Linked DNA regions of Homo sapiens: region 1 is linked to region 2. Evidence: fine-mapped expression QTL. A gene starts in region 2. The other region holds a variant in brackets. All regions are shown on one strand. Distances are from middle to middle. Region 1 overlaps PUM3 (pumilio RNA binding family member 3). Region 2 holds the start of PUM3 (pumilio RNA binding family member 3).

Evidence for each region.
Region 1: its variant is fine-mapped to the expression of PUM3 in whole blood (TOPMed, PIP 0.97).

Annotation. Positions count from the first base shown.
Region 1 is chr9:2,801,004-2,806,380 of GRCh38, reverse strand. It overlaps PUM3 (pumilio RNA binding family member 3), which reads left to right. Exons shown (of 18, transcript NM_014878.5): 18 at 1,918-2,229. The coding sequence ends at 2,050. Among named protein-coding and RNA genes, the nearest start is that of PUM3, 40 kb to the left of the region's middle. The variant G/A (reference allele first, on the strand shown) is at 2,456.
Region 2 is chr9:2,840,978-2,846,354 of GRCh38, reverse strand. PUM3 (pumilio RNA binding family member 3) reads left to right here and starts at 2,260. Exons shown (of 18, transcript NM_014878.5): 1 at 2,260-2,310. RefSeq lists enhancers at 1,929-2,168, 1,992-2,286, 2,670-3,231.

The sequences.
Region 1 (5,377 bases), 40 kb after region 2:
AGGTATGTCAGTGTCTCCAAATATATAAGTGTTACAGATCATTTTGTTCATTTCTGCTTAAAATTAGTTAATTTTCCAGTTGATGTTAAACAGTCAGAATTCGTTAGCTGATACATGAACTTTTTCATTACAAATTTTTTTACCAGGCATTTGGAGTGTTAACACCTACTGACACATTCTTTCATTACACTCAATTAACTGGAAATTTCAGCAATGCCATGAAATTAATTTATAAAGGTTGTTCATCAATCAGAACTCCCATTAGGTGGATTTCAAACATAGGAAGGATACTATAGGTTTATTATGGAGCACTACTCAGAATTGGAACAGGAGCAGAGGAAATATTTGAAGTTCTAAATGGAAGTTGAGCTATATATAACAATAATACAAAAAAATTGTTTTTGTAAATTTTGGGTGAAAAGAAAATCAGCCTTGTATGTTGGCTGAAAAGTAACTCAGAGAAGCAGAATTCTCTAACATTTGGGAGCATTGGCACTTGACAGACTGCCTGGGTTCTAGCTTAGTGCATAGCCTTGGGAAAATTATTCAGCTTTTCTGGGCCTTAATTTTCTTGGTGGTAAAAAAAATGAGATTAATGATAACCCTATGGTCGTTATGAAAACTAGATTGGATGATGCATATAAAATGCCTAGCATTATGTCTAATATGTGGCATATGCTCAGTAAGCAATAACTTACTATTATGTGTTGTATAACTGTGTGTTTAGCCAAGATGTATGAAATAAAAACACCTAGTGAGTCACAAATTCATTACGAGGGAACTTTACTTTTTAGCATCGTAGGTGGCAAGCTGAATTGTTTCTTATCTCCCATAAGCAGTAGAATATTGCTTGGTGCTGATAATTTATCCTCCTCTTTGTTGACATATTGGAAGTTACTGGGACCAGGGACTTTGGAAAATACCAAGTACCTCATTTCTAAAATGTGTTTCAGAGGTCCGTATTTACAAAGGGTCCCGAAAAAGAAGAGAACAGGAAATTCAGGACTGGTACTCTGCGGTCAGAGCTGTAGGTCCTATCCACAGAGAAATGGGCCTGCTGTTACCAGCCTCTATGGCTCCTTTCACTTCTGATAGAGTACTCGGGCAGGGTTTCAGAACGCAGAGGCCGGGCTTATTTTGTAGAATGGCTAACATTTATTAAGTGCTTACTAAGTGTCAGGCTCTGGCTGGGTGCTTTAGATACAAGGCCATTTGAGCCTCAGAAAACCACTCTGTGAGGTGGAAGGTGGACTCTGTTGTGAATCCCATTCTACAATTCGGGAAACTGAGTCTTAAGAGAGTTTACATAGCATGCTCTTGGTTGTACAGTTACTGAGTGGTAGAGGCAGGTTTCCCACCCAAGCAGTGAAGCTCCACAGTGAAGCCCTTCGCCCTTTCACTCAATGTTAGTGCTGTGGAGTTCAGTGAGAAGACCTGCTAACTCTGACCTCTCTGTGCCTCTGTTCACACCTTTTCATTCAGCCACGTGGTGGGCATATTTTGGCTGTCTGCTCTGTAAATGTAGCATCATGAAATAAATAAAATACGGTCCCTGCTCTTGAGCTTATAGTCCTGAGATGGGGAAGGGAAGATAGAATACATGTAGAATCATTTTAAGACAGGATGTAAGTAAGTCCTAAGATAATGTGAAGGTAGAACCAACTCTGTATGGAATGATGTTGGTCCTACAAATGTCTTTGCTTGGGTGACTCCACCAGCAAGATTCTAAAACGTTTTTTTCCGTGGTGTTATAATATGGGCTACTGGTCTCATCATTCATCCTTTGAATGAAAAATAATGTGTATATAGTTACAAGGCTTGTGTCACAGTTAACAAAGTCTTTTTTACTGTTGGTACAGGTAGTATTGGAGATGATCTAGGAATGCTTATGAAATTTAATTTTTTTCCTCTCTTCAGCCTCCTCCAGAGTTGTGACCTGGAAGTTGCAAACAAAGTCAAAGCTGCACTGAAAAGCTTGATTCCTACATTGGAAAAAACCAAAAGCACCAGCAAAGGAATAGAAATTCTACTTGAAAAACTGAGCACATAGGTGGAAAGAGTTAAGAGCAAGATGGAATGATTTTTTCTGTTCTCTGTTCTGTTTCCCAATGCAGAAAAGAAGGGGTAGGGTCCACCATACTGGTAATTGGGGTACTCTGTATATGTGTTTCTTCTTTGTATACGAATCTATTTATATAAATTGTTTTTTTAAATGGTCTTTTTTAAAAATCTCAGCTGTCTCCTCTGTTACACTGAGTAGTAAGCATATCAGTGTGAGGCAATTAATGTGGAAGGTTTACCAATCATATATGGTGGGACCAACCAGATATATAAAGTGTAGTTGAATGAGTTGATTCAGGGGAGAAGACATCTTCAGTGAGCATAGTCTGAGAAGGCTTCCTGGAGAAGGTGGGACTTGAGAGGACTTTCATCCTGTCAAAGGAAGGCAGGATGT[G/A]GAAAAGAAGAGCCAGGGGGAGTCGTGGGCACAGTAAAGTGGAATTTAATGAGTACCGGGGCAGTGGGGGGTTCACAGCTGCCTACCTAGCTGTTTTATGGATTAGGTTCCATGCTAGATTTTGTTTGAAAGCCACTCAGGTAAGTTAAGCTCATAGGAGGAAATGTGCTAAATGAATTAGGGGATCACTGTGGATTGCGGTGTTAAAGTCAGGGTCACTGGGAAGTTCTCCTTGTCTCTGATTTTGGGCCTTCCAAGTAAATAGCTCCTTGTGATTAGACTTTCTCCCTTGAGACTGTCCCTAAAATGTCAAAGCCTATGGAGTTTGAATAAGAAGGAAGAAGGTGGAAATTTGTTACGTGCAGAAGTTTAACTACAGCTAGGATGTTTGAATTTTAAAACTGCAGTTGTTTGAGCAAACAAAGCTTAGAAGGATTGGTAGCTCAGTCAGGCTCATGTAGTCATGCCTATGAGTATCTGGCTGCTTTCTCAAAGTAGTCTAACGGGGTACTCACTCAGGTCTGTCACTGCAGTTACACCTGCTGAGGAATTGGCTGTGCCTTTCCTTTCCAGACCATGGGGTCCCAGGACTACTCCAGCCTACCGACTACCAGGACCCCTCCTGCCACGGTGTATTGAATCCTTCCCAGACTGCAAAAGCGCTGATGGCTGTAACTTTTGACATGGATTCTCACATCACCCAATATAAGGGTGTGGGTGGAGAGCTGGAGGAACTGGGATGGGATAAGGAGGTGAATGGGGAAAAGGCAACAGTAGAGCTTGCATTTGTTTGGCTAATACATTGTGATTTGTGTTCTCTGTATAAAGAAGCCATTCAGAGAAAGGGGGAAAGAACCCCTGCTCTTTGTTTCATCTTTGAAACTAAGATAATGTGTACATAATTTGAGGAGTACTTTTATAAAGCTTATAGCAGAAGCAGCAATCTACCCCATTCCTCTGCACCCCTGCCTCACCCTCCCCAGAACTACTGATTATTCTTCGCTCTGCTAAATGTCTAAATACATCTATCAGTTGCAGGTATTTTCTTTTGATTTCCTATTACAGGAAATGCAGATTAAGAACTTTTACCATCACTGTTCCCCACTCCTCTTCCCTCCCTTCCCAGTAGAATTGCATCATGTATGATGAAATCAGTGTTCAGGGTTTACCTTATTATACCTACATAAATGTTGTTAAATATTGATTCAAGTAGTGAGCAGCCATTACATTTCCTCTACTATTTTAATTTTTCTGGAATTAGTCATTTATTTTCATTTGCTTAGTTTCTACATCTCTGTTGATTTTTCCTAAACTTTACGTCAGAATTGCTTAAATTCTTCTCTTGAAGGCACCCTTAGCAATTACTCAACAGCCATTTTCCTCTTTTTTTTTTTTAGCCCACCAAGGCTTCTGTGTTATTCTGGTGTCTGCTCCTTTCCACGTGGCTTAAATATCCTAACTGATATAATTCAGTGTTTCTCTAGTTGGTTGTGAATGTGTTGGGATTTTGACAACCTCATTCATTACCCCACCCGGCTGTACACCTGATTCGCTTGTGTGTCCTATGCAGAAGAGCACTGGTATGACCGAGTCCGGAGGGCCCATTTCTTAAATCAGTGACGGATTTAGGAAGGAGCCTGACCAGTGAAAGTTGGAAGAGAGATGGTATTCCTGGGAGGGTTTCTTAGGTCTCTTGGGTTGTAGAGAGTCCCCTTCCTGCCCGTCAGCTTTGGTATGTGCAGGACTAGGCCCAGCCTGCAAGCTAGAAGCCTGACAGGAAATAGCAAATATGCCGAGGATGGCTGAGCAAAGGTTTGTGAAAAGAGTCTGGAACTTTGATGATGTTGAGCTGTTGAATAAGTTAACTCCTGGAGCTGCGCTAGCCGTGGACTTCTGGTTATGTGAGAGAATAAACCCCAGTTTTTCATTTTAGGTCAGTTTTGAGTTGGATCTTTTGCAACTTGCAGCCAAAAGTATGCTAACCTGGCTGTCTCTAAATACCAATTTCCACAGTATCCAACATGTCAAGTCGGCAAGCATTTCCACCTTCTCCTGGAGACACCCCTCCTGGCTTTCGGGATGTCCTGAAGAACTGCTGCTCCTTCACCATCATCATCGTCTGCCTTCCCTTAGTTTCTCTCCTATGAAAAGTCCATTTCTCAGATCCCATGCATCTCTCTTGCTTAACACCCTTTTCTCAACACGGCACATCCTCTAGTAGCTTCCCGAGAAAGAATACATTCTAAAGACCTTGCAAGTCCGAATGTCTTTATTCTACTCTCAAACCCAGATGTCTAGTTTAGCTGGACATAGAATTCTAGTTTAAAATTAATTTTGCCTCAGAATTTGAAGATGCTCGTCAATATTGTCTTTAGATTGCAAAGTTGTAGAAGTTTAATGTCCAGTGCCATCCTTATTCTCAATCTTCATATGCGGCCTTTAAGTCTCCAGCTTTCTCGTGTTTCAGGATCGTGTGCATTGGAAAGTGTTATGTATATTTTCTTTTCCTTCTTTATGCTAGGCACTTGGTGAACCATTTTAGTCGGAAGAGCCAGATCCTTTCATCCTGCGAGATGTTTTTCCATGGTTTTTTTTCTGATTTTTTTAATGTACCCCCTGCCCCGTGTTTTCTCTGTTCTTTGTCTTTGGAGCTATTACTGAGAGTTGAAATGATTTGAGCCTCTAATCTTCTTTCTTTTCCCTATTTTTAATATTTTTGTTTTTTTGCTTTGCTTTCTGAGTGAGATATTTTCTCTACCTTCTCTGCCAGCCTTTTGTGTTTTGGGTTTTTTGTTTGTTTGTTTGTTTTTTGAGACAGGATCTTGTCACCTAGGCTGGAGTGGCAGCTGTGCAACTTGAGCTCACTGCAACCTCTGCCTCCTTGGCTCAAGCGATCCTCCCACCTCAGCCTGTCAGGCGTCA
Region 2 (5,377 bases):
TCCAGAAACAAGTGTTGTTATTCCCATTTTACATATGCAGAAACTGAGGCCCATACAAGTTGGCTATCTTGTCCTTGGCCATACAGAATTTAGATTGTAAGCCAGGTTCCTTTGATTCTAATCTCAATGCTCGTCATTGCATTGCTATAGTACTGTTATTAACCTCTTGGATGTGTGCAAGTCTAGTTGCTCTGATTAAATTGTGTATCACGCAAGAAGAGCATCTTAGGCTTGTAGGAGTACACCTAGTGGTCTACATTTAGATCATTAGATATTTGAAGAATTAATGGGTTTGCTTGACAAAAAAAAAAATTACAGGATAAGCTTTTTTTGTGCTGTTCTGCAAAACCACACGATGCTTTCAATTCACTCCAAAAAAAAAAAAAAAATCCAAATCAATCCACTTTCACAGAAGACTTGATAAAAAAGTTTTTAATAATAATCAAGGGCTTTGATATGTGATAACATTTTTTTTTTCCTCCCTGGTGAAAAGGCAAATGAATAGCAGGGTTTTGGTGCAGATGCTTAAGGCAACTGCATGGACCTATCTTCAAGGATATGGGGTGCTGCTGTCTGTCGAGTTGAAAACACAAACGTATCCCTTCCCAGGGTTGTGTGATAGGGTGTATTTTGCGATTTTTCTTTCTTTTTGGCCAGCATTTACTTGTCAGGTGTTTCAAGGTGTCTAATATCCCCACTACTATGCTATTTGCCCAAAAGGCACAGCTGATGGGCCTCCTGCAATTCCTGTTCCATATTCTCTTCTCTTAGCATTTACTGAATTATTGAAAGCAGTACGGAGGCAGCCACGTTGAGTTTAGAGTCAGGCTCACTGGACCAAAGCTACTATGTTTTGCCTTTCTCTGTAAAATGAGAAAAGACCTATTTAAAACGTTCTTATGAGATTTAAATGAGCTGAAATGTAAACTAGTAACAGTTAAGGTAGACGACAAGAACTTATCAAGTATCTATGTGCTGCATAGTGAGATAAGTGCCTGGAAAGTAATGATGGCCCCTGTCATCAAGAAGCATACAGTCTACTAAATTACCAGTTTCAACTCTAACTCCTTAGTGGCCAGAAAACGGAGTAAGTTGGAAGACAGTAAAATCTGAAGTCTGGCACCAGGGATCAAGTGCCAGTTCCTCAACTTTACAGATGCAGTGGGTTGAATAGTCTCCAAAAGATATGTCTATGTCCTAACTCCCAGGACATGTGAAAGTGACCTTATTTGGGAAAAGGGCCTTTGCAGATGTGATTAAGGACCTCCAGATGAGATGATCTTGGATTATCCCCGTGGACTCTAAATTCAATGTTCAGTGTCCTAAAAACACACAGAGAAGTGGCACAGGCACAGGAGAAGGCCATTAGAAGACAGGCCGAGATTGGAGTCATGCAACAAGAGGCCACGGACCGCCTGGAACCGTTAGAAGCTGAAGAAGCAAAGCATTCTCCCCTAGAGCCTTCAAAAGGTGCAGGGCTCTGCCAACAGCTTGATTTTGGAATTCTTGCCTCTAGAACAGTTAAAGAATAAAATTCTGTTGCTTGACACGAGCAAGTTTGTGGTGTCAGTTTCTTCATCTGGAAAATGGGGCATATATCCTAACCACAATCTTATTTCCTGAAGTATAAAATGGAATAACAGCAGTTTCCAGGCACGAGCAGACACTAAAAATGGCAAACATTTATTGAGAGCGTTCCATGCTAAGCGCTTTGCACGTATCACTTAATTATTTCTATTTTATTGATCAGGAAGCCAAAGCTCATAAAAACTGTAATTTTCCCAGAGCCACACAGCTAGCAAGTGAAAAAAACGGGATTACAATTCAAATCGACTCACAAGATACCCCTTTTATCCTCCACGCTGGACTGCTGAGGAAGTATGCAAATTAACACACTTTAGAAACTTTAGCTACTTCAATATTTGTTCAGGCTACGGGATGCAGGCCTCTTATTAACCGCGCCAGCCAGGTCTGTCCTTCAGCAGCCTGTTCTGCCTCGCAAGAGCTCTCCCTCTCTTTCCAGCACGGAAGCCACAGGGTTAATGACGTCATTTCCCGTGGCCGTTGTCGCGTCCTCCGCCCGACGGATTCTTGCAAGGGCCAAAATCCTCGCGCCTCAAGAGGAGGCATAACAGCAGCGGACCAATAGAAATTCCGAATTTTTGTATTCTCTGGGAAGCTCCACCTCTTAGTCCCTGATCCGCCGCGGAAGATGAAAAAAAGCGGCCCGGGGGCGGAGCAAGGCAAGGAAGCGGAAGCGGAGAGGCGGTCGGGATCCGCTGCGCGAGCTGTCTCGGTCCCACGTGTGCGGTGAGTGTGGCAGGCTCAGCGGTCGCTCTTGGGAGGGGTTCGCACCCTGCCGGGCGCTGGAAGTCGGGAAGGTCTCTCGGGGCTGTTGTCCACTGGGCAGTCTCCTCTGGCCTCTTTCTGGGCTAGGAGTTTGGGACTGACTGGAGCCTGGCAAGAAGGGCGGGACTGGCCGGGCGCGGTGGCTCACGCCTGTAATCCCAGCACTTTGGGAGGCCGAGGCGGGCGGATCACAAGGTCAGGAGATCGAGACCATCCTGGCTAACACGGTGAAACCCCGTCTCTACTAAAACTACAAAAAATTAGCCGGGCATGGTGGCGGGCGCCTGTGGTCCCAGCTACTTGGGAGGCTGAGGCAGGAGAATGGCGTGAACCCGGGAGGCGGAGCTTGCAGTGAGCCAAGATCGTGCCACTACACTCCAGCCTGGGAGACAGAGCAAGACTCCGTCTCAAAAAAAAAAAAAAAAAAAAAAAGAAGGGCGGGACTCCGACCTCTCTCCCACCACGTTGCCCTGCGTGCCGGGTTAGAGTGGACTAGCTTCACTCCGGAATCCCAGCCCGTGCTCGGCCTGATCAGCCTGTCTGTGCTACTTCACAAACCCCAACTCCAGTGCTAGGCGGTTTGCCTGAATGTACGCAGATTCTAAGTGCTGGGAGGAAACGAACTGGATGCTGAGTTGGCAGATAGTGGAGTCTGAAGAAGTGATCTTTAAACGGAGATTTGGAAGCTCAGGGAGTACTTCAAGCAGAGGCGATAATGGGCTAAGTTCCTGAGATGGGAGCTAGGAAGGAGTATAGTTAGAGTACAAGATAAAGTTAGCCGGATAGAGTGGAACTAGGTTCTGTAGGGCCTTGAAGGTCATGATGGGGAATTTTTTTTTCTGTACAATAGGAAAACATTTCCGTTCCTATTACCATGTGTAGAAAACATTGAAGACTTGTAAGCAAGTGAGAATCATGAATAGGCCCTGGTTCTCTTTAGAAAATGTATTACATTTGGAAGCTCAAGAGATTGTATTGGTAATAGTTTGCATTAGGGTGGTGACGTAAGGGACATTTAAGAGAACTAACTTATGGTTCAGCGTGGCAGAGTAGAGAGGAAAATGTCAAGGGTAACTCAGATTTCTTACTTGAGCAGTAAAGTAGATGATGTGCCATTGGCTGAGATGGAGGACGATAGGGCAGGGAAAAATAGTATATTGTTGTTTGTGGGGCAAACAACAATAACATAAAGAACAACATAGAGAATTATGTTTTGGACATATTAAGGGTAAGGTTCCTGTTAGACACATAATTAGAGGTATCAGATAAGCAGTTATACACAAGTTTGGACCCCAAGGAGAAGTTCATAATGGAGACATGATTTGGGAGTACTCAGCATAAAAAGCCAGGAGATTGGATGAGACCACCTAGGGAGAAGTGTGGAGAGAGAAGGGAAGTTCCCTAGGGCAAAGATTTGAGGAATGCTAACATGTAGAGGTTGGTCTATAAGAAAATGTCATTTAAACTGAATTTGAAGGATGGGTAGAAATTGTGTTGGTAGAGAGAATGGCTTTAAACTTCACTATTCTGATAAGAATAGTGGCTCCTGTGTGGTGGTGATGAGTGGGGTGAATTAAGACCACATTTTGAATGGCTGTGAATGCCTGAGTTGGAACTTTTTCCTGAAGGCAGTGGGAAAGCTTTGAAGCTATTGGAGCATGGAAATGACATGAAATAGGTGTGCTACTGGAAGGTTAATCAGGCAGCGGAAAGTGGATCAAAGCAGATAGGATCTAAACAAAACTGAGCAAGAGGTAACAGGAGCCTGAATGGGGTAATAGAGGGAAAGGAAAAAGGGGGGCGAATTCCAAGAGACACTATTGAATGTGATGATTCATTACGAAGGTACAGGGTTCCCAAGCAAAGCAAATTGCATTTTGCCCAGTGCAAAAAGCAAGACTCAAAAAGTTACATATTGTATGATTCCATGTATAAGAATGCCATTCTGGAAAAGACAAAACAGGAGTGAAAACCTAATCATTGGCAGTCAGGAAAGAGGGAAGGAGTTGAATACAAAGGAGCTGTACCAGGGGACTTTTTAGAGTGACAGGACTTTTCTGTAAGATACTGTGGTAGTGGATGCATGAGTCTTAGCCATTTGTTGAAGCCCGTGGAATTATACACCAGAAAGAGTAAACTTGACTATATGCACATTTAATAAATCTGCCAGCATTTCTGGGGATGGAATGCAGGCTGTGACAAATCAGTTAAACTATATTATAAACATGTAACTTCACTAAAGAGGGTGAGGGGCCGAAGGGCTGATCTAAGAACCTTTTTTTTTTTTTTTTGGCCTGCAGCAGTAATTGCTGCAGGCAGAATACACTGACTTGAATGCTAAAGTTAGCAAGTAAAACTTAAGAGGAGGTAGGATGTCCATATATTCTCCAAACATCTTGTCTGAAATGTTTATTAATTGCTATGGTAGTTTAACATTTGAAATAGAGTCTCACTCTGTTGCCCAGGCTGGAGTGTAGTGGCACAATCTCAGCTCGCTGCAGCCTCTGCCTCCTGGGTTCAGGTGATTTTCCTGCCTCAGCCCCCTGAGTAGCTGGGATTACATGTTTGCAACACCACCATGCCCAGCTAAATTTTGTATTTTTAGTAGAGATGGGGTTTGGTCTTGAACTCCTGACCTCAGGTAATCCACCTGCCTCAGCCTCCCAAAGTGCTGGGATTACAGGTGTGAGCCACCATGCAAGCCTCTAAGTAACTTTGGAAAAGTATTTTGAATGGATACAAAAAAGAATTGTACGTCAACACTGTACTGTCATTGTAAATTTATTTCTCACGGGGTACAGGTTAGCAATTCTGAAACTATGCATGTATAGTAGGGTGGAATATGTGTATAAATAAATTGTAGATGGTGGGAAGCAGGTTGCTCACTGTCAGAGAAGGAAGTTACAAATGAGCAAGAGGAGATGCCTGGAGGAAAATATGTGGTGCTTGATTAGATTTGGAAACATCAGTATGAGCTTCAAGTTATTGTAATAGATATAAAAATAAATATAGGTATGTGCATATGCAT